Homo sapiens: one gene and its partners. The protein of the gene in region 2 interacts with the protein of the main gene of each other region in a pairwise test. Each region holds a gene or a part of one and is shown on either strand. Other genes may lie near its edges.

Evidence for each region. Proteins that work in one complex are often made in the same cells at the same time.
Region 1: the proteins of TMEM97 (region 2) and VSIR interact in binary tests that used the Homo sapiens proteins (3 or more experiments, as listed by UniProt).
Region 3: the proteins of TMEM97 (region 2) and SAR1A interact in binary tests that used the Homo sapiens proteins (3 or more experiments, as listed by UniProt).

Annotation. Positions count from the first base shown.
Region 1 is NC_000010.11:71,770,521-71,778,196, reverse strand, and holds the start of VSIR (V-type immunoglobulin domain-containing suppressor of T-cell activation precursor), read left to right. Parts: upstream 1-4,676; 5' UTR 4,677-4,757; coding exon 4,758-4,839; intron 4,840-7,676. Other genes in the region: CDH23 (cadherin-23 isoform 1 precursor), read right to left, coding at 1-8, 296-517.
Region 2 is NC_000017.11:28,314,972-28,322,762, forward strand, and holds the start of TMEM97 (sigma intracellular receptor 2), read left to right. Parts: upstream 1-4,228; 5' UTR 4,229-4,268; coding exon 4,269-4,394; intron 4,395-7,791. UniProt on the Homo sapiens protein: Sigma-2 receptor which contributes to ameliorate dysfunctional cellular processes and slow degenerative progression by regulating cell functions including cholesterol biosynthesis/trafficking, membrane trafficking, autophagy, lipid membrane-bound protein trafficking, and receptor stabilization at the cell surface.
Region 3 is NC_000010.11:70,153,515-70,160,514, reverse strand, and holds part of SAR1A (small COPII coat GTPase SAR1A), read left to right. Parts: intron 1-2,647; coding exon 2,648-2,751; intron 2,752-6,545; coding exon 6,546-6,677; intron 6,678-7,000. UniProt on the Homo sapiens protein: Small GTPase that cycles between an active GTP-bound and an inactive GDP-bound state and mainly functions in vesicle-mediated endoplasmic reticulum (ER) to Golgi transport.

The DNA.
Region 1 (7,676 bases), on a different chromosome or scaffold from region 2:
ATGACACCCTGGGGGACACAGGGAAGGGACAAGGATGGATCTAGGGGTGGTAGGTCTGCAGCACCCTCTGACCAATTTGGGAAGTAGGCCCTGACATTGGAGCTGTGATGGGGAACCACTGCCACCCCCTAGCCCAGGCTCCACTCCACCAAACTTTTCATCCTCCCACACTGAGTGCCCCCACAGTTTCCCCTAGACTGCATCTTTGCTCCATCCCCCTCCAGTGTCACTGAACTCCTTGCCAATCCCTGGATAGGTTTCGCCCCTTGTCTTGATCCTGCCATCAGCTGCTGACCATGTGTCTGTCGATGCGGAAGGTGTTGACGATGTTGCCTGCGACGATGGCATAGGTGACTGTGCCGTTGGGACCCTCATCCAGGTCCAGTGCCTGGATGGTGATGAGGCTGGTGTTGAGCGTGTCTGGGCCCTCATCCAGCAGCACCTCATAGTGGGGCTGCTGGAACATGGGCGCGTTATCATTCTCATCCACAATGGTCACGTACACGTGCGTGGTGGCCTGTGGAAAAGAGTGGGTCACGTCCTTGGTCAGGTGGCCAGAGGGACCAAGGTGGATCCAGATGGCTGTTCTCCTGGGCTGAACTCACTCCATGTGACTCAAACAGAAAGGGCAAGGAGAAGAAAGCAGGGGGTGGGTCACAGGCTGGTAGAGAGAGAAAGCTCAAAAACTCCACCAAAAGCCAAGTAAGGTAACTGCTCTGTCCAAGATGGCACTGGCACCACCACTCCTATGTCTGCGACCCCCAGCAGACATCACTAATCAATCACAGAACTGCTGAGGCCAGATGCAAACTTGGGATCCTTGTTAGCACAGTGGTCTAGTGATTAAGACTGGCATATGGGATGAACCCTGGTAGTCACCCCAGCTCAGAGCTTTACGAGGGCCTGTGTCTTATTGAGCCTATATGTCCTGCCAGACTACAAGAGGCAAGAATGTGAGGCACTCGGCCCAATGCCATATTTAACCTTCATCTATTGTTCATGTAAATGAAAGAAATACATATTTTCAGCATTTCCAGAAGGAGGACATTGGGTTTGTGGCAATTTCGTGGGCAGAACTTGTTGACCTGTGAAAAATAAGACTCACAGAACATAACTTCATTCCAAGAACAGCTTCTACAACATACTCTCCTGTGATCGGCCATCTCTGCCAATGCTTGAGTCAATTGGACCACAAGTAATATTCAGCTAATCAGAACTCGGCAATCAGCACTCAAGAATCAACTAGAAATGGTTCTTGCTCCTGCTTCCTGCCTTTCTCCACCTGGGAAGATGTCCCCTGTGGACTAACTGCCTTACCCTGGCTCCCTTGCTATCCAGCTTCCTGCTGGGTGTGGCCAATGGGAGGCCCTGGCTGAAGATGAAAGCAGTGGGGAGAAAGAGGCGGGGGTGTTTCTTCCACACTCCCTCCATTCCTCACTGCGGTTCTGCCCATGGCTGTGTTTCTCCTGCTTGGGGACAGGGGTCCCCCTTTCATAGCACCAGCTTTCACTGGGCTCCAGAACATCACTTCCTCTTCTTTCCCTTTGGACATGTGAGTGGTAGTGGCTTCCTGTGGTTGGTGCTAGTCTCTGGGTGCTTTACCAGCCTTCCTAAACAGTCCCTGTATTAAACTCTCTTCAGTTGAACCCTTTCTGAGTGTGCCATCTGTTTCCTGCCAGGACCCTAACTAATACAAATCATAATGAGTGACTAATATAAAATAATAAGGTGTTAATCACTGCAAAGGTGTCTGGGTAGAGAGAACGTGACTAGGCCATTGCCAGGCCAGAGAACAGAAAGCAGGTGGTACAGACAACTCAATGTAGGCAATTTGCATATGGTTTTTTCCTTGGGACTGGCTGGCTCTGGAGCTACCACTGGAAGAATGGACAGATGGGCAGGGGATCTGGACCCAAGAAGGCTGTCACTGCCCCTGAGGAGGCAATGATTCCTCTGATATGCAGCTCTGGATCTTGGGGGTGGAGGGCATTGGGTGTTTGCTGAAACGGTTTCCAAAGCAGATAGGGTTGGCAGCCTTGAAAAGGAGCTGCGTGGCCTTGGGCAGGTCACATCCCCTCTCTGGACCTTTTCTGTCTGTTTAATAAAGGACCTGGCTTGATTTCTAAAGTTGTTTCTAGCTCAGGGAGTTTGGGAGGTGAGTTTGGGAATGTGGGAAATGTCAGCATCCCCTCCCCAACAGGGAGGCTGGAATTCAGCCCCTTTCCTGCAATGTGGTGCTCTTGTATTCTTGCCGGCAAGTAAGGGGACTCAGGAAGGCTCAAGGCTGGGCCCCTCACCAGTAGAGAGTACTCACAGCTGCCTCCAGGCCCTGCAGAGCCACAAGATGGACATGGTGGCTTTCCTTGACAGTCATCTTTATTCGAATATTTGGGGCCTTCACCACTATTTTTAATGAAAACAAGCACAAACACATGATGGAGTGTGCAGGCTGCAGGGGCTGGGAGTGGAGAGTTTGAACAGAGTTGGGCCTTGGAGCCCCTCCTGCTCTGAGACCAGGTCTGGGCTTGGGGAGGGAAGGTGGGTTTGACTTCCTCTGGTCTCGGAGGGAGGAGAAAGTCAGTGCTCCAAAGGCCCTCTCAGCTGAGCCCTTCCTGTCCTGCCCTGGTGTTGAGGAAACAGTGCTTGAGGTTTCTGGACCATGGTCCTTGGGCAATGCCTGTGTCTCACCCTGATGCAACCCCAGGAGGCTCAGTGGTGGGCAGTGTGGTAGGGAGAAAGGAAGTGAAAAGGGGGGAGGGAACTGGGCCCAGCTCAGAGGCTCTATCCCCCTGGGGAAGGGGTTGGCAGGGCAATTGCTCCCCTTTCTCTAATTCCAGGCCCTCCCCGGCTGCTAGGCCCTGGGGAAGAGGGAGTCTGGTTTCAAGGGTGTCCTGAGCAAAGCCAGTCCAGGAAGGGTTGAGATGGGGTGGTGCTCTAGGATCTTGCCCTTAAGGGACCCCCCTCACTTGCCAGAGGATGTCAGGGTGAGAAGGGCCCGGTGTCCACCTGATCTCAGTTGGCTTTGTACCTCCCCTGGTGGAAGGGAGCTCATGCTATGCCAGCAGGAAGGGCCCTGGGCTGCCTTCCAAGGTGGGGTCACAAGGCCAGGAGCATGCCCAAGGACCTGGGTTATGTCCTGCCAGCCTCTGGGGCTCCCATCCTGGGGAGTTCACTGGCTCCAGGGGGACTGGGCCTGCACAAGTTCACTTAGTAATAACATGATGCCTCAGCCTTCCTCTGTTGTAGCCTTCCCTGCCCTTAGAGCAAGGGCTAAGGGCCTCCAGAGAGCCCGTGACTTGGATCAGGCCACCCACAAGGCCCCCAGGACTCCTGGCTCCCATTGAGTCCTGATACCCTGGTTCCTGACCCAGTCAGACTCTGAGTGTCCTCTGCCTCTCAGCCTAGGAGTCACCTATTAACCCAAGATCCCTAAAGTGCCAGAAAAACCCCTGGAAGCTTCAGCTAGACTGGGGTAAACTGAGTAAAATGGCTGTGCTCTTCCACTCCTGTGATCCCTGGTCCTGGCCACGATCACCTCTGCTCCTCCATCACACAATCACTCACTCACTCATTGGTTTGTCCATTCAGATAAAAGTGCAGTAAAACCTTCTCCACGCCCAGCTTTGTGCTAGGGTCTCAGAAACATCAGAGAGAGGTTTGTAGTTTCGCTCTGGAGGGCAGAACAGCCGGAAGAAGAACCAACTGCTGGTTATCTCAGGCTGGAGGTGGTAGCTGAAGGGGGTGTGGACAGTAAGGATTTGCCGGGAAAAAGGAAGGGTCAGGACATTTCGTGAAGTGGGAGGACTTGAGCTGAGCCCTGAGGGATGAGAAGAATTAGGAGGGGAGAGACATTCCAGTGGTGCCAGCAGTGCTGGGTGTGGGTGCAAGAGCAGAGGCACTAGAAGTTAGGGTGCATCAGAGTGTCCTGCAGATATCCAGGCACCAGGGAGGGAGGGCGGGTGCACAGCCAGGCGGACAGCTGAGGCCTCTGCCGGAGGGGAGCTTGCAGGATGTGCTGTGGGGCACGCCAACAGGTGTTGCCTGCATATCTGTGTGTGTCCCGGGGTAGGGATGTGCTGATCTTGGCGTGTAGTCCTGCACCTGTTCTGTGTGTGTGTGTGTGTGTGTGTGTGTGTGTGTGTGTGCGCGCGCGCATGCACTCAGGGTGCCTCAGGCTCTGAATCTACAGTTAAACTGGCTCCAGCTTGCCTAGCTCTTCACAATGTCAGATTTCATTCATTCACTCATTTACTCACTCATTCCACAGCTGGGAGTGCCTACCACATACCAAGCCCTGGTCTGGCTGGAGGATGTAGGGTACAAGTCTCTGTCCCCAGATCACTCAAAGGCTGGTGGCTGAGGGCAGATGCAAGCCATGGTAACGTCTATCACGCTGTTAGAGGTAGATCTACTTCTTAGGCTGCGCAGCAATAATAATTTCTCTCCAAAAGGACTGGGGGACGGTAGAACGGGCTTTAAACTGCCGATCAAGTGGAGCTGACTCGCTGGGACGCACGCTGGCTCCCCACCCACGGGGCCGGCCTCCGGGAAGCCCCTCCCACGCGGCCCTCGGAGAGGCAGTTCCCCCACACGGCCCCCCGGGGGCGCTGCGCGAAGGGGGCGGGTGCCTGGAGCACGGCGCTGGGGCCGCCCGCAGCGCTCACTCGCTCGCACTCAGTCGCGGGAGGCTTCCCCGCGCCGGCCGCGTCCCGCCCGCTCCCCGGCACCAGAAGTTCCTCTGCGCGTCCGACGGCGACATGGGCGTCCCCACGGCCCTGGAGGCCGGCAGCTGGCGCTGGGGATCCCTGCTCTTCGCTCTCTTCCTGGCTGCGTCCCTAGGTAAGGTCGGGGGAGGCGGGGCGCTGGGAAAAAGCTGGGAGAAGACAGCAGACTGGAGTGGGAACTGTGGGATGGGGGCGTCCTGGGGGCCCTCTCAGCCTGTGTGACCGTGCACCCCACTCCACCCACCGCCCAGAGGCTGCTGGGACCCCTAGGCAGGGTGCAGTGGCAACTGTGCCAAGTGCCCCAGCTAGGCATCGGGCACATCTGCATGCTCTGACAGCTGCCCAAGTGGCAGGCAGGGCTGTCCCCTGAGGGCTGCCTGTCCAGCCCTTCCCTGCCCAGAGAACCCAGGGCACAGGTAGCTTCTGCAAAGAAGGAGAGGCACAGGGTGGGGGCGGTCAGTGTGTTCTGGTGGATATCACTGGCTTTTGACAGCTGGCATCTTTCTGCCCCTCTAGTCTCAGGGCTCTAGTGTTGCAGAGGACACAGAGGGCGTGGTATGCTCAGCCAGTGCCCCATGCCCTGGTGAAACCCCTGGCTGAGCCTTGGTGGGCACTGGGCACTGGTCACGGTGGGTCCACTTTCAGACACAGAGGCAGCACTGCCCACCTGGTCCCTATTCTAAGGGTCTGATGGCCCAGGAATAAGTGGTCAGCTGATTCCTGCCATCCTAGCAAGGCTGCCACTCAGGGACCAGTGTGGAGTACTGGGGAGGATGTGGGACACTCTTCAGCTCAGCTATGAGCCCCTTCTGGGTCCCTGGATAAATTACGGCATCTCTCTGGCCTCAGTTTCCTCAGCTCAAACACAGAAGCCCACACAGGGAAGCACCATTTTCCCCTTCCAAAGTCCAGACTGTCAGCATGTTCAGATAGTATCCTGGCCCCAACACAGGGGCTCCCGGGCTGGGGGCAGAGGCCCTGGTACCCATGGCCTGGTTGCCTAGTTCTTGCCTGCCCAGAGCTGAAGAGGCTGGATCTCTTCAAAGAGCCTGTGGAACCAAACTTTATAGGGAGGGCCCAGGGAAAGTATGAGTCATGCAGGGACTCGGAGGGAGGCAGGAGGGAGGTGGAGGGCTTGGCACAGGGACCCAGTGGGCAGGATGGAATAGAAGGAGAGGGTGATAGGATAAGAGGGAGAGGAGGAGGCTGAACCTGGAAGATACCTTAGCAACCTGGGTGCCCACAGGCAGCTGGCTATCTCAGCACTTGGAGGCTGGCCTGGGCCTCTGAGGAGGAGGAGGGCTCCACATGTCACAGACACAGCTGCCCTAAGCCCCAGGGTGGATGCTTCTCAAGGTGACAGTCAGAGGGAGGAGGAGAATGGGAGGTGGAATGGACAGTCTCAGCACCAAGGCCATGGCTCATGGCAGGGCATGGCTTCCAGAAGGAACAGAGGATGGTGGCAGGCAGGCAAGCCAGCATCCCACCTGTCATGGGCCACCTGCCCTGCACTGCCCTCCCTGGTGGCCCTGTGAGACCCTTCCTGCTTTCTTGCCCACTTCCTGCCCTCACTTGGCTGGGCTGCCCTCTGTTCAGCAGCCCCAATTTGAGAAACATTTCTAGAGATCCAGGGCACAGGGACCCAGCTTGCAGAGCACCCAGTAGCAGAGAGGCCCCAAGAGGAGCTCAGGACGCCTTCCCCTATATTGCTTATATGGCCAGGGGCCTTTACTCCCAGAGGTCTTGGCTACTCAAACAACATGGTATACTAAAGGGTCATCTCTTCCTGGGCCCAGCACAGGGAGATGATTTAGGCTGGCTGCAGCTTTCCACTGAAAGGAGCCAGAAGCATTTGAATTGCTCTGGGACCTCAGGATTCTGAACTGTGACATGGACACACTATAATAGATATTCACCCAACTCCCTAGGACAGTGTGCACTGAGGGAGATAGCAGATGGGAGGCCTGGTTGCAGGCATGGTCAGCAGGATCTGTAAGTTGAGAAGATTGATCACCAGCCTGCCGAGGTGCTGGGTTGCCCTGGGTATGTTGCCCAAGGTCAAAGCCTTTATGCCAGGGAAAGTGAGATAGAGTGGCCGGGGCCAGCCTGTTCTCCAGCTCTTGGGGTTGGGCCAGCACTGAGGAGAATGGTAGTGATGAATGTGGTGTTCAGAAGCCCAGGAAACACCAAAGATACCCCTTTCCTGGGCCTGACTCAGGGTGAGATGGGTGGAGAGGTACACTTAGGGACCAGGACCCAGCAGATCTCAAGGGTAGCAGAGCCTCTTCTTCCCCACAGACATTCCCAGGACCCGAGGCAGTTACTGTCCTTGCCCTGTCCTCACAGGCTGACTCAGGACTCCCAACCTCTGGGACTAGCACATTTAAGTGCACTGGGGCTAGGGACGAGAGACCCCATCTTCTCCTTCATAGCAAACCAGGCTGCAGGGCCTTGTTGAGTAACCCAGTGCTGCAAGCCTCTGACGCAGCAATGGTCAGCTCTTAGGAAATCCACAACCCACTGCCCAGAGGCTCTGGAGTAGAGAGGAACAGCCTTGAGGCCAGTCCCTGGCATGAGGGGTCATCTACCCAATGCCAGGGACACCCAAGGGCCAGCAATACTGGGAGTCCCTTGCTGAGCTGTACTAGTTGTTCATGCTTCCACCCAAGCAGGGCAAAGGTTCCGCTGGGGTCTGACCTTCCTGGGAGAGGGTGGTCCAGGCAGGAGTGTGCTGCTGAGACGCTAAAGGGGTCACCTCCCTATCCGCACACAGTGTATGGGGTGTTAGGCCTGAGCAGATGAAAGGAAGAAAGGGATCCTCAAGGAGAACCCGTTGGCAGTGAGCGAGCCCCACATACCAAACTTGAGGCCCCAGGCTTTAGCCAACCAATGACCCAGGGTCAGTCTGGTCTCCCAGGGGAGGGTGGGCCAGGGATCAGCACTGTGGCTTCC
Region 2 (7,791 bases):
TGCCCTAGGGATAGAAGACTTGGCCTGGGGCTGGGCGTTAGGATACCAGGGTTCCAGTCCCTGCCTTGTCACTCACTTTGTGACCTCGGACAAACACCTCTCTGAGTCTCAGTTTCCTCATGAGGTGTTAGGCCCTAGATATCTACAAAGGCCCTCCCAGCTCTTCATGTTCCATTTTTTTTTTTTTTTTTTTGAGACGGAGTCTCACTCTGTCACTCAGGCTAGAGTGCAGTGGTGCGATCCTGGCTCATTGCAACCTCCACCTCCCAGGTTCAAGTGATTCTCCTGCCTCAGCTTCCCATGTAGCTAGGACTACAGGTGCACGCCACTATGCCTGGCTAATTTTTGTATTTTTAGTAGAGATGGATTTTCACCATGTTGGCCAGGCCAGTCTTGAACTCCTGACCTCAGGTGATCCACCCACCTCAGCCTCCTAAAGTGCTGGGATTACAGTCCTGAGTCACCATGCCCAGCCTTTTTTTTTTTTCTGAGACAGAGTTTTGTTCTGTCGCCCAGGCTGGAGTGCAATGGTGCTATCATGACTCTGCAACCTCTGCCTCCTAGGTTCAAGTGATTCTCCTGCCTCAGTCTCCTGAGTAGCGGGGACTGTAGGTGTGCACCACCATGCCTGGCTAACTTTTGTACTTTTAGTAGAGTTTGGGTTTCACCATGTTGGTGAGGCTGGTCTGGAACTCCTGACCTCAGGTAATCCACCTGCCTTGGCCTCTGCTGGGATTACACGTGTGAACCATTGCGCCCAGCCTTCATGTTCTCATTCAAGTGAATGGTTTGGAGAAGTGAGAGAGGAGCTGTATACAAAAGTCCCCCTTATCCGTGGGGGAACATGTTCCAAGACCCCCAGTGGAGGCCTGAAACCATAGGTAGTACTGAACCATATTGTTTTTTCCTATACATACAAACCTATGATAAAGTTTAATTTATAAATCAAGCACAGTAAGACATTAACAATAAAATAGAACAAGTATAACAATATACTGTAATAAATAGTATGTGAATGTGCTCTCTCTCAAAATATCTTACTGTTCTCTAGATCTTAGCAACCTCAGCATTATTTCCTAAATCAAAAATCTTCACCTTTTCACATAAAGGAACTTTATGGTTTCTCATTGGCATATCCGAATTGTCACATCGCTACCATTGCACTTTAGGGCCTTTGAGAGGGGTCTCACTGTTGTGGAGGCTGGAGTGCAGTGAGGTGATCACAGCTCACTGCTGCCTCAAACTCCTGGGCTCAAGAGATCCTCCCACCTCAGCCTCCTAAGTAGCTGGGACTACAGGCAAGCCACCATGCCCAGCTAATTTTTTTTTAAGAGATGGGGTCTTGCTATGTTGCCCAGGCTGGTCTTAAACTCCTGGCCTCAAGGGGTCCTCCTGCCTCGGCCTCCCAAAGTGATTACAGGTATGAGCCACCACACCTGGCCCACTATTAAATAACATAAGGCTTACTTGAACACAAGCACCGTGATAACTCAATGGTCAATTTGATAACCAAGATGGCTACTAAGTGACTAACAGGAGTAGTTAGTCTGGGAACAGAGTGGAGTCTGAGAAAGAGCAAACTGCCTTTAAAGATTTATGGTGTGAACAAAATGGGCTCTCTCCTCAGGTGACCTAAGGTTTCCCAGGCATTGACTTTTTTTTTTTTTCCTGGAAAAAAAGCAGCAGCTAATTCTGAGTCCTCCCTCCTGAGCCCCTGGTAGAGTGTTCTCTCCATGGAGCCCGGCTCCCCCCTCGGAGCAGGACAAACAGCCCTGAACACCCCTGCCTCCCTGTGGCTGCCGGCTCTGTGGTCCTGGGCAAGGCTGACCTGAGACTTGGGGGACGCCAGAACTGTGTGCCCTCACGATGCTCAGCCACCCATGCTGTTCATCCCCTGCTCCCCACCCAAAGACCTCCACATTTCTCCTACTGTCTCCTTCCAACCTGCTCCTCCTCCTCTCCAGCCAAACCCCTCCACTGTTACCTCCCCCAGTAACTGGCACTTGGCTGAGGACTCAGCTTCCCCACAGCCCTCTCCAGCGCAGGCTATTCACCTTCTCGCACCCTTCAAGGTCAGGATAAGCGGCCTCCTCCCTCCGCAAGGCCATGTCCACACAGTTTCCCCTCCACTCTCATCCCATGCTCACCTTCCTTCTGGTTACTCCCCCGTGTGCAGTGGCATTTTCGCCACCACCACCCTGGGTGGCCTTCCCTTGACCTCATCTCCAAAGACCTTCCCCTCCACTCCATTTCAGCCGCACACTCCCACGGGCAGAACCTCTTCCTGACCCCAGGAATTCAGGTATTGCACGCCCTCCTCATAAGCTCCCACCCTTCCGGCCCAGTGACTCCCATCACGCTGGCACGTGTTCCTCAGCAGGCCTCCACTGTCTCCCTGTCTTACAGCCCCCTTTGGCCTCACCTCTCCCTCTCCCCCTACCTAGCTTGAACTGCAACCTTCTGCACCTCAATCACTCTTCTTCAGCTCTTCAAAGCCACCTTTCGCTTTTCTGAACCCAAACTCTGTAGGGGTCCAACAGCCTTCTTCTGGGTAGACCCCGCACTAGAGAAATGCAAAGCACACAGCCTAAGAGATTGGGGCCTCCGGGTCAGCGGCCCCCCACCTCAGCTGGGCCTTCAACACTGCCATAATCCCTCTGTCCTAGCCCACAGCGCCCCAAGGGAAGGGGAAGCTGGGCGGAGCGCAGTGCACCCACCTAACCCACCCCAATCCTTCCATTCCCTCCGCCTCCTCCAGGGCTTTGAGCCGCATTTCCTGCTCTTCTCGAGTAGGGGTAACCTCTCCCACTGTCAAAACTAAACTAGCTCAAGTCTTTCTCACCTGCAAAATAAACTCTCGAGTGCATCTCTCTCCAGCTACTGCCCCATGTCTTCTCCCCTTCGTGACCAGCTGTCTACACTTCCTGCCTCCATTTCCCCACTTTCTTACTCCCTGGCTCCTGCCCCCACGACACAACTGTTCCCCACAGGGCCACAGGCGGGCATCACTCAGTGTTGACAGGCTGCCCCTCCCTGTGACATAGCCCCCTGCTAGTACGCTCCTATCTCAGTCCCCTCCTCCCATGACCTGAGGCTGGAGCTCCCCCAGGATCTCTCCCAGGCCCTCTGCTCGCCATCAAAGGCGGATGCCTCACAAGCTTACGACTCCAGACAGGCTCACCCAACTGCCTCCTCCACCCAACGCTGCAGCCCACTCAAGGTCCACGTAGTCCAAGCTGCATTCCTTCCTCGCACTCCCTTGCCCTGTGTCCCCTCTTAGCAAATGGCAGCCTCGGCGATCCTGCCCCGAGACAGGCCTGCGCCCAGCGTGGAGATGAACATCAGTATTTGCTGAACGTGTAAACGAATCCTTGACCTTCCCTCATGCTCCACAGCCGGTGAGGATTCCTGTCCATTTTACTGCCTCCTACGTCCCTCGAGTCCTCCCCTCTGCTTCTTTGTTCACCGCGGCCAGCTGCCTCCCCAGACCCGCAACCCCGGCTGGGCCGGGAACCTGCACCGCGGCGCTCGTGCCCCGCTCTGCGACCCCTGCTCCGTGACGGCCGCACTGCACCGGGGTACCGCGGCCCAGCACAGGCGCTGGTCACTAGTACACGAACTAGCTAGGACTACAGGTGCACACCACCACACCTGGCTAATTTTTTATTTTTTGTAGAGATAATGTCTTACTAAGTTACCCAGGCTGGTCTTCTGGGCTCAAGCCATCCTCCTGCCTCGGGCTCCCAAAGTGCAGACATTACAGGCATGACCCACCGTGCACAGCGTCAGCTTTATTTTTTTAATGCTGACTTACTGCAGAAGGCCCAAGGGCCAGTGCAGTTTTCATACTGCTGTTGTAGTGGCGAACGGAGCCACGAGGGAAGGGAGCGCCGCCGGCAGCTGCCGGGACACCAGGATACCACGCGGCCAGCACCGAAACGCTAGGCTCGCGCTCACAACCGCAATCTACACTGAGTAGCCGCGCGCCGAACGGCGTGACTAAGCCCCGCCCACACGGCGCTCCTGGCGGCCAATGGAAATGGCTTACGAGACGCCTTCTCCACGCGCTATACTTATACGGACCAATGGGTGCGCCCTGTGGGGAGTGCCGCCCCCTGTCCACGAGCCTCCTCTTCTCGCCAGCCAATGGAAGCGGTCTGCCTAGCCCTCGCGGGGGCAAGGCGGCGACCGAGGCGCGTGGGTCTGGGAAGGCGCGCGGATTTGGCCCCTCTTCTCACATCAGCGGGTCCAGGCCCAACCGACAGACTATGGGGGCTCCGGCAACCAGGCGCTGCGTGGAGTGGCTGCTGGGCCTCTACTTCCTCAGCCACATCCCCATCACCCTGTTCATGGACCTGCAGGCGGTGCTGCCGCGCGAGCTCTACCCAGTCGAGGTGAGGGGCGCCCCTCTTATCCCGGCCCGCTGAGGCTCTCCCGGCGCTGCGTCCACAGGGCCTTCACCTCCTCCGCGCTCGCGCACTCTGGGTTCCAGTTGCCTCTCTCGGGTCCTGCCCATGCCTCCCCCGCTCCTAACCCAACTTTAGTTCGGTGTTTTCCTCGGGCTTTGTCTCTATCCCAGCCCCTTCTCCCAAGCGGCGGGGGCGAACGCTTTGTTTCCTTTAAAGTCACTTCTTCCCTGGGTTTAAGGTTTCCCGCGATTCCACCTCTGGCCGGTTGTCAGTGTCTGAGGGAAGTAGTCTGGATGAAGTGGTGTCCAAAGTCACATGTTAGGTTTGCTTTAAGCTTCTGGTTTTTTGTTTGTTTGTTTGGAAGGGCTTTAAAATACCAGTCTGATCCCAAAGAAAAAATCCGAGTAGAAATAGACCTGTCTGAAGGTTTAGCACCTTGGTTGGTGCAGCTGGGGCGTTCACAGATCGTCACTGCTTCGAGATCAGGTTCCAGCAACTTCCAGAGCTCAGGAGTAAATTGCCATCTTTTCAGATTGGCTCTTCAATATTGGGTTCGAGTAACAATGATCTCCTGAGTAAAAATAAAGGTGAAAATCCCGATTTCCTGGTTGTTGGAGAGCATTCTTTCAACCCCAAACTCTGCTTTAATGCTTTGTTTTTTTCTTCAAAGCTATAGTTTTAGTTTCCCGGTTCGTTGAGGTTTTTTTCTCGTATCTGGACCCTGTGACCTTCTTCCATGGAATTCCTGTCCTCAGTTTTGTTTCTCCATCTTATCTATAACTGTAGGCAGGACTGACTTGTCTACCCGAAGATTTTATTTTGCGTCTGTTTTTCCTTAAATGCTTTTTATCTGCCGAGGAGGGGTTCTTTACCTGAGGGTCATGAACTCCCAAAAATGGGTGCAAGTGTGTGTGCCTTTTGTTTCCTGCAAGGAGAATATAGCTTCCATCGACTTTTCAAGGGGCCTAACTCTCCCAAAAAGGCCACGGCTCAAGAATGTTCTACCACTCCCATAAGTCACTCTTTTTTGTTTGCTTCTAGAACCAAACACAACTGGAAGACCTCTGACCTCCTTTTGCATGGGAAAAGCGTAGGTAGCGTGTAGCAAGTTGCAGTCTGGGGACTTGGTTCTTCCAAGAACTGGAGGTGACTTGGGCAGGTCAGGGCTCTATATCCTCCTCAACTGTTGAGAGAGTTGAGTTAAATTATAAGCTCAAACATATACAGGGTGGGTTAGTTTTCATATTGCTGTTGTAGTTACCACAAATGTAGTGATTTAACAGATTTATTTGTTTACAGTTCTGGAGGCCAGAAGTTCACAATGAAATCTTACAGTGCTCAAATCAAGGCAGGGCTCACTCCTTCTGAGGGCTCCAGGGGAGAATCTGGTTCTTGCCTCTTCCATTTTCTGGTGGCTGCCAATGTTCCTTGGCTTGTGTTCACGTCACTTCAATCTCTGCTTCGGGTCATCACATTGCCTCCCTTTCTGTAGTCAGAGTTCCCTCTGCTTCGCTTTTATAAAGACACTTGTCATACATTCAGGGCCCACCAGATAACCCAGAAAATCTCCCATTTCAAAATCCTTAATTACATCTGCAAAGTCCCTTTTGCCAAATAAAGTAATAGTCACAGGTTCCAGGGATTAGGATGTGGTTATCTTTGGGGGCCATTATTCAGCCTACTACAGGGCCAGAGAGTACAGACTCTTCCCAAAGACCGAAGAGGTCATCGCAGCTCTGCAGTAACCATTAATTGCCCTGAAGAAAGGAAAATCTACTACAGTGTTGGCCTATCTGTGGTTTTTGAAACCTGTGTGGCCAGCAATACTCAGACAGGCTGCCTGTTTACAATCTCTGGTGTTATAGGACCTTTTAATACTTGGTAATTAGCCTGCTACTCCATGTAGCCATTCCAGACTTCACAGCTGTTGTCTTCTTTATCCTTCCTGGATGTGCCATTCTCACAAGCCCGTCTTGCTCACCCCTAACAAAATACACTTAAAAGGTGCTCAGCATCATATCATAAAGATCCCATTTAAATGTTTACATTTGATAAAATTTTCTCAGTCTTTTTTTTAGAAACAGGGTCCTTTGTCACCCAGGCTTGGCGTGCTGTGATGCAGTCATGGCTTACCACAGCCTTGAACCTGAGCACAAGAGATCCTCCCACCTGTCTCCTGAGTAGCTAGGACTATAGGTGCACACCACCACACCTGGCTAATTTTTTATTTTTTGTAGAGATGATGTCTTACTGTGTTACCCAGGCTGGTCTTCTGGGCTCAAGCCATCCTCCTGCCTCGGGCTCCCAAAGTGCTGAGATTACAGGTGTGACCCACCGTGCCCAGCGTCAGCTTTATTTTTTTAATGCTGACTTACTGCAGAAGGCCCAAGGGCCAGTGCAGGCAGCATCTGGCCAGAACCTGTGTGTGTGTGTGTGTGTGTGTGTGTGTGTGTGTGTGTGTGTTTGTGTGAGATTTAGGCATTAGCACGGGCATCCTGGGTGTGTGTGTATCTGTGTGTGTGATGATGTTTGAAGGCATTAGCTCGGTGGCATCCTGGCATGGAAGGTCTGTGCCTCCATTCTTGTTGCTTTGGTGTAGGAAATGCTGATTTTGTTGCTTCTCTATGGGGCAAATAATAATAAACGCCTTGAGTTATTCTCATATTCTCTTTGAAAAATGCCAAAATTTAACATCTGTCATTTTCTTCCTGAAATAGAAGGAATGTTTCCCTAGAGTTAAAAAACCTGTAGGAGATCACCTAGTGGTTGGGCTGAAACATGCACAATAAATTTTTTTTCTTGGATTGCACCAAATCACTGCTTGGAAAAACTCATTTTTTTATTTACTTTTTGTTTTTCTTTCTTTTTTTTTTTTGATTTTGTTTTTGAGACAGTCTCTTGTCGCCCAGGCTGTAGTGCAGTGGTGCAATCTCGGCTCACTGCAACCTCTGCCTCTCGGGTTCAAGCAATTCTCCTGCCTCAGCATCCCAAATAGCTGGGATTACAGGTGCTTGCCACAACGCCTGGCTAATTTTTATATTTTGTTATAGATGGTGTTTCACCATGTTGGCCAGGCTGGTCTCAAACTCCTGACCTCAAGCGATCTGCATGCCTCAGCCTCCCAAAGTGCTGGGATTACAGGTGTGAACCACCACGCCTGGCCTGGAAAAACTCTTATTTTATTATGAAACAGTAAGAATTTAGTTTGGATAAGAACATGGTAAGGAGAGGATGGGAAGCATTTTGTAGTATCATTTGCAGCTGGGTAACATTGCTTCTGGTAAAAATAAGGAAAAACAAGTGAGCATCTGGCTCTGAAATCAGTCTGTGTTCCCATTCTAAATTATAGAAGTACAAGATTGGTGAGTAGCAACCACTGGTT
Region 3 (7,000 bases), on a different chromosome or scaffold from region 2:
TTTTCTTCTATACCTTTTGCTCAAATTTGTTAGTCTCCTCCTCCCTACATAATACATATTAATGCTTATTTTTTATGAACTGTTTGTGAGCATATCATGCCCCTTTACTCTTTAATACTTTAGTGCCTCTTCTTTATATAATACATATTAATGCTTGTTTTTAATGAAGTGTTGGTGAGCATATCATGCCCCTTTACTCTTTAATACTTTAGTGCCATTTTCTAAGAACAAAGATATTTCCTTGTATATAATCATAATAGTTATCAAATCCAGGAAGTTTTATTTTTATCCACTCTGTATTTCCTTTTTTTTTTGGTCAGTTGTCCTGATAATCTCTTTTATACCATTTTTTTCATCTTGACCAGGTATACGGTATCATATATCTAGTTATGAAGTCATTTTTGCATCCTTTATTCAATGGAGTGAAAGTATGTAGGAAATTAAATATTTATAAGTAATTTCAGACTTGTCAAAAGTTGCAAAAGTAATACAGTGACTATGTGTGATTACTCTGATACAAGTTGATATTTTGTATATTCTATCCATTTCAGACAGTTGGTGGAACATTTCCTTCTACCTTTTTGCTTTCCTCAGAAGTGCTTTTTGCCTACTCAGGCTATGTCTTTGGTTTCCAGATTCCTATCAGGTGTTTAGAGACATACAGAGTGTCATCTTTGTCTGATGGGCACTCAGTTCACATTTGACAAGACCGTAGGTATAGGAGTAAAACATTTAAGATGTGAGAATAAATATTCTGGGAAAGTAGGGAAAAGGAACTATTGAGATTCTGTCAGATTTACTTACTTGTTATTACACTGAGTGGAGAAGTCTTGTTTTGAAACATTAGGTTGAGCTAATACCGTTTTTTTCTTTTTTTTGAGATGGGGTCTTGCTCTGTTGCCCAGGCTGGAGTGCAGTGGCACAATTTTGGCATACTGCAACCTCTACTTCCTGGGCTCAAGCAATCCTCCCACCTGTTTTTTGTAGAGACTGGGTTTCCGCCATGTTGCCCAGGCTGGTCTTCAACTCCTGAGCTCAGGTGATCCACCTGCCTCAGCCTCCCAAAGTGCTGGGATTATGGGCGTGAGCCACTGTGCCCAGCCTAATACAGTTTTTAAAAAATGTATAGTAAAATATAACATTGGTCATTTCTAGTTGTTAAGCCTAATAATTTTATAGTCAGTGATTTCATTAACATATAATTACATTTTAATTAATTTATTTAATATTTATGCCCTGAAAAATCATGTATATTATGATCATAATCACATAAAATACCAGTAAAGAAAAGAGGCTGGAAGAAAATATCAAAATATTGACAAGGGGTGTGTTTTGATAGAGGGATTAGAAATGATTTTGTTTCCTTTTTTTCTGTAAGGAGCTTGTATTTTTTTCATTTGGGTAAGAATGGGTATATGGTGTCCTTTCTGCTGCTTCCACAAAAGGATTTGTAACTGCTTACAAATTTAAATTCAGAGCAAGATAAGACTGAACCTAGACCATCTGGAGAATGTAGAAGGACCAGACGCCAGATGGTTTTATATACCTGAACTGGGAATTGTAGATTGTTTGGTGTGATAAATTTAGGTTTCAGGTTTTGTTAAAAGTAAGAAGGGAAATGTATTGATGTAATTAGTTTTGTTTATTTGACTGAGGAAAATCTACTTAACAAAAACACTTTTACATAATAACCTAGCCACCATTTTATAAAAGTTACTAAAGTACTGTACATCTGGAGGTTTCCTTTTTTTTTTTTTGTATAACTTAAAAATTTTAACTTATAAAAGGAGAGCAAGTTCGATGTAACAAAATCAGTATAGAACTACGGAAAGTAAAATGGAAAGTTCCTTCAACCTCTTTTTCCTAGCTCCACTCTTTAAAGGTAACCATTATTAACTGATGTAGAGATGGTTCGTTATTCATTCTATTGCAAGGGCTAGAAATTAATGGCTTAGAAATGATAGTACAATTAAATCACTGCTTCCCAGCCTTTATCGTTTCATGTCACAAGCAAAAAACCAAGTAATATTTATAAGGCATGCTGGGTTAAATATGGTAGGTTGAGATAACTGGCCTGGGGCCTTGAACCACTTGTCAGGCCTAGTCTCCCTAAGGGCTGAGCAGAGGAATGTGTCAAGACGCCTACACACAAGTTGGCTAGAAACTAACTGGGACTAAAGTTACATGGACAAGTAATTTGTATCCTGATGTTTTAACTCAGAGGTTGCAAACTAGACTTGGCCCCAGGGGCAAGGCAAGTCATTTAAGTGAGTAAAATTGGCTGACTGTAAGACAGCAGGGAAATTTTGTCAAGCAAAAGTGTTCAGACATCATCTGAAGGGGCAGCCACTGCTTAGTTCCTGCTGATAATTGTCACGTGGATAAGTAGGCATGGGATTGCCAGATGTTGCAGTTTTTCAAAAAAAGCGGAAACTCTGATTTTCAAATTTACAAAAATCAGGTTCAGCTCATGGACCATCAGTTTGCATCCTCTGTTCTGAATTAATACTGGCCAGAACTTGGAGAAATCCATAGAGTCTAATCTTACTGAAACCCGACCAAGATTTGTCCATTTTATAGACCATTAGGTTATTCATTTTCACAATGTATATTTTTTACTCATGCAACTACAAACTTTGTTTTTTAGCACGTCGCGTTTGGAAAAATTATCTCCCAGCAATTAATGGGATTGTCTTTCTGGTGGACTGTGCAGATCATTCTCGCCTCGTGGAATCCAAAGTTGAGCTTAATGTATGTTTTGTCCTTTAATGTGTATTTTAATGTATATTTTGTTCTTTTTTGGCCTCTATTTTTTTTTAAGGAATATAGCTCAGTAGTGCCAATAATTAGTCATTCCAGTTAACATTTGGCAAAAAGACCTAGTTGCAGGAGGAAAATGTTTTAAATCTAAGACATTGCTTTTCAATGTCCTGAGGAAACTCAGCTCAAACTTAAATAAATTAACTGTTGTTTCTATCATACAGTGATTATATGGCCAAGTTTGCTCAGGATACTCCTCATTTATGCCTGTTGTCCCAGCATAATTAATAGTATTCTGTTTCACGTGTCATGAACAGTAATTCTGTTTTTTTTTTTTTTTTTTTTTTTTTTTTGACGGAGTCTTGCTCTGTTGCCCAGGTTGGAGTGCAGTGGCGCAATCTTGGCTTACTGCAACCTCCACCTCCTGGGTTCGAGGGATTCTTCTGCTTCAGCCTCCCGAGTAGCTGGGACTACAGGCACGTGCCACCACGCCCGGCTAGTTTTTTGTATTTTTAGTAGCGACGGAGTTTCACCATGTTAGTCAGGTTGGTCTTGATCTCCTGACCTCATGATCCACCCGCCTTGGCCTCCCAAAGTGCTGGGATTACAGGCATGAGCCACCGCGCCTGGCCCATGAACAGTAATTCTTTATAAGTAGTGTTGGCATAGTGAAAGCCTAAAAGCGATATTAGAGTTCTTTACATTTTTGAATCTGCATTCTCAGCTTGTGCCTACCCACCCTCCCACTGAATGACTTGCCAGACCTTCATGGTCTGTTCTCAGTCTTCAGTTTTGGTTGCATACATCCTTTGATACTATTAAGGACTCACTTCAAGTTTTCTCCTTTGTCAACATTGCATTTTCTCATGGCTTGATGGTTTCTATACTATTGGCTTTGTTATCCCTACTCCTTTACCCTATATCTCTTCTTTCTCTTTGATTTATAACTCCTTGCATTCTTGTTTCTGGCAACTTGAACCTGTCTTGAATTTATTTCTAAGTATGTTTCTCACATCTATAGCTCCAGCCTCATGTAGAATTGCCTGCCACGCAGTCTTTACCTTGCTTTTTTTTTTTTTTTTTAAACAGAATCTTCCTCTGTGGCCCAGGCTGGAGTCCAATGGTGCAATCACGGCTCACTGTAACCTCCAGACTTCTGGGCTCAAGCGATATTCCTGCCTCAGCCTCCCAAGTAGCTAGGACTACAGGCATACACCACCACACCCAGCTAATTTTTTTTAAAAAAGTGTTTTTGTAGAGACAGGGTCTCATTATGTTGCCCAGGCTTGTCTCAGTCTCCTGGCTTCAGGTGATCCTCTGCCTCGGCCTCATGAGGTGCTGGGATTACAGGCATGAGCCACCATGCATGGTCTCCATTCTCTTTGTTTAAACTCCTCTTTTCACTCTTGATTTTGGAGCTACCTCTCTGGCTGATACTTCTGTCTCTTTGAGAAGCACTAGTTCTTCTGGTTAGTCCTTAAATGTTGGTGTTCTCCAGAGTACTTTCTCCTAGGCTGGTCCCATCTACTCCCTTCATTTGGCACCTACATGTCAGTGACTCTCAAATGCATTTCTCTCCTCTAGACCTCTCCTGAGCTCTAATCTCATACCTAATCCTGCCTACTCTCGACAACTCCTACTACTGATTCTGTTTTCCTAGAATGGAACTATTTGTCTTTCCCACCCACCACCTACCTGGACATGCAGTCCACAAATCTGTGAATTAATATAAATCCTACCATGACCCTGATATGCACCATAATGCTAGAAGGAACTTTCTCAGACTTAATTGCCCTACTTAATATCCTTTGATAGTTCTCTATCATTTTCAGGATAAAATCTATAAATCTTTTGCATAGCACATAGGATCATTCATGATCCTCCCTCTGTTTCTTTTTACTGCCTACCTTGAACTATATTCCAAACAAACAACTTAGCCATCCTTGAATATGCACAAGTAGCTACTGCCTGGCTTTTTCACCTGTACCTCTCCTCAACCCCTCGCTTTGTCGGCAAATTTTAAAATGTTCTATAAGAGACCTCAGAGTTCAGATATGACTGCTTCTGGTAAGCCTCCCTTGACCTCTGAGACTGTGTTAGACTCCCACCTTACCAATGTCTGTTGTCTTTATTGATTTTTTTATAGTTCTCTCTCATCAGACTATGAACTAACATGATAGGGACTGTGTCTTATTTCTTTGCAAAACCCCTGCACCTAGCAAAGCATTAGACACATTAGGTACTTTGTTGTTGCTTAATGAATGAAGGACATTCTTATTCTAATTTTGTGTAACATTTCCTGGAATTCCAGATGGTCAAAGTACATTCCTCTTTATCTCTTTAACTCTGCTTTCCCCGCTAGCTTTCCTATTGGTGACAACTAGATTCCCAGGCTTGAAATCAGTGGCAGTTTTGACTCATTTGTCTTTTTTAAATTTTTTTTTTAATCATTTAGACATTGGTCTCTTCAATTCTTTCTTCAAAATGCCTCCTGCAGTATTCATTGAATGCTCTACCTTAAGCTAGATCATGATCTCTTACATGAACACCACAGATAGATACTATTTGTGAATTCATTATACTGAAAAATAAGATTTTATTCACTAACTTCTGGATTTGTGGTCTTTTAGGATATATTGCAGCTCACTTCTCACACTGGCCCCTAATGTGAGTCATCTCTTCTCATCCATTTACTTTGTCGCTGCATGTCTATCTAAATGCTTGAATCCAGCCATGCAGTACTGTGTGGCTTCCTGAATTATTGTCCTAATGCAAAGCCGTTGTTTATGTTCTTACTTCTCCTTTACACCTATCCAAACCCTGCCCTTCCTTTAGAGCCCTGTTTAGGTTCCAGATCTTTTCTAAGACTTTGCTCAAGCCCAAAATTGCCATTTTATTTCCCTGAACTTGTCTTAATGTTAATATTCAGTTCCCATTCATTGTGACACTTATCCACTATATTGTGTTCTTACTTGGCTTTGTTAACATAAATGTGGCTGGGCGTGGTGGCTCATGCCTGTAATTCCAGCATTTTGGGATGCTGAGGTTGGCAGATTACTTGAGGGGCAGGAGTTTGAGACCAGCCTGGCCAACATGGTAAAACTCCATCTCTACTAAAAAAATACAAAAATTAGCCAGGCGTGGTAGCACATGCCTGTAGTCCCAGCTACTCAGGAGGCTGAGGTGGGAGAATCGCTTGAACCTGGAAGTCACAGGTTGCAGTGAGCTGAGATTAAGAAAAAAGAAAAAAAACATAATGTGAACATAGAGTGAGGATTTTTTTGAGGACAGGAATGTGCTTCCTTTTGTATCCTCAGTGCCTGAGATAGTTACCCTTCCTACTTTATTCCTCTCAATGCCTGAGAGAGTTCTTCGCACACAATGGGACTTGGTGAATACTTGGGGAATTCCTGTAGTCATCTTTGAGGCTCTGTAGCCAGAGCATTCATTCTTATAGGACTTTGCTGAGGGACATCCTGAGGATAGTTTGTGGCTGAGCAGATTAGCTCAAAAGTTAATATTGGGGCAGTTCTGCTGCCTTGTAAATAAATAGAATAAAGTTGCAACTGTTTCGAGGCACTTAGGAGATTTTTACTTAATGTCATGGGTGTTATGTAATGTCAAGGTGAATCTTTAATCACTCAGGTATAAAGTTGATCAGATTTTCACTTTACATTAATGCCTTAAAAGATTAGTGGAAGTCAGAATTTTCATTATCTGGTGGGCTTTTGTAGATTCCTCACTTAATTCTTTTTTTTCTTTTTTTCTTTTTTTTCAATCTTTAGGCTTTAATGACTGATGAAACAATATCCAATGTGCCAATCCTTATCTTGGGTAACAAAATTGACAGAACAGATGCAATCAGTGAAGAAAAACTCCGTGAGATATTTGGGCTTTATGGACAGACCACAGGAAAGGTAAGAGAAAAATATTTGGGTTACATATAAAGGACATTAACAGTTTTTAAAACATGATGTTTCGCTATCTAGATTACCCTTTTCTTTTAAAGGCTTAAACAGGCTTAGGATTAGTTTTACTGTGAGTATTTTGTAAGCTCACTAGAGGCAGGAGTGTGTTCTTTTTAACGTTTTAAATGGGATTCATTCATCAGGTATTTGAGGAAGAAGGAAATGGTAGAAAAGGCAGATTTACTCTTCTAAGAGTTTATGATTATCTTTCAAATTTGATTCTGAGAAATTGCTTTTGAAATAGCCCTTTTTAGCCAGAAAATAATTTTTTT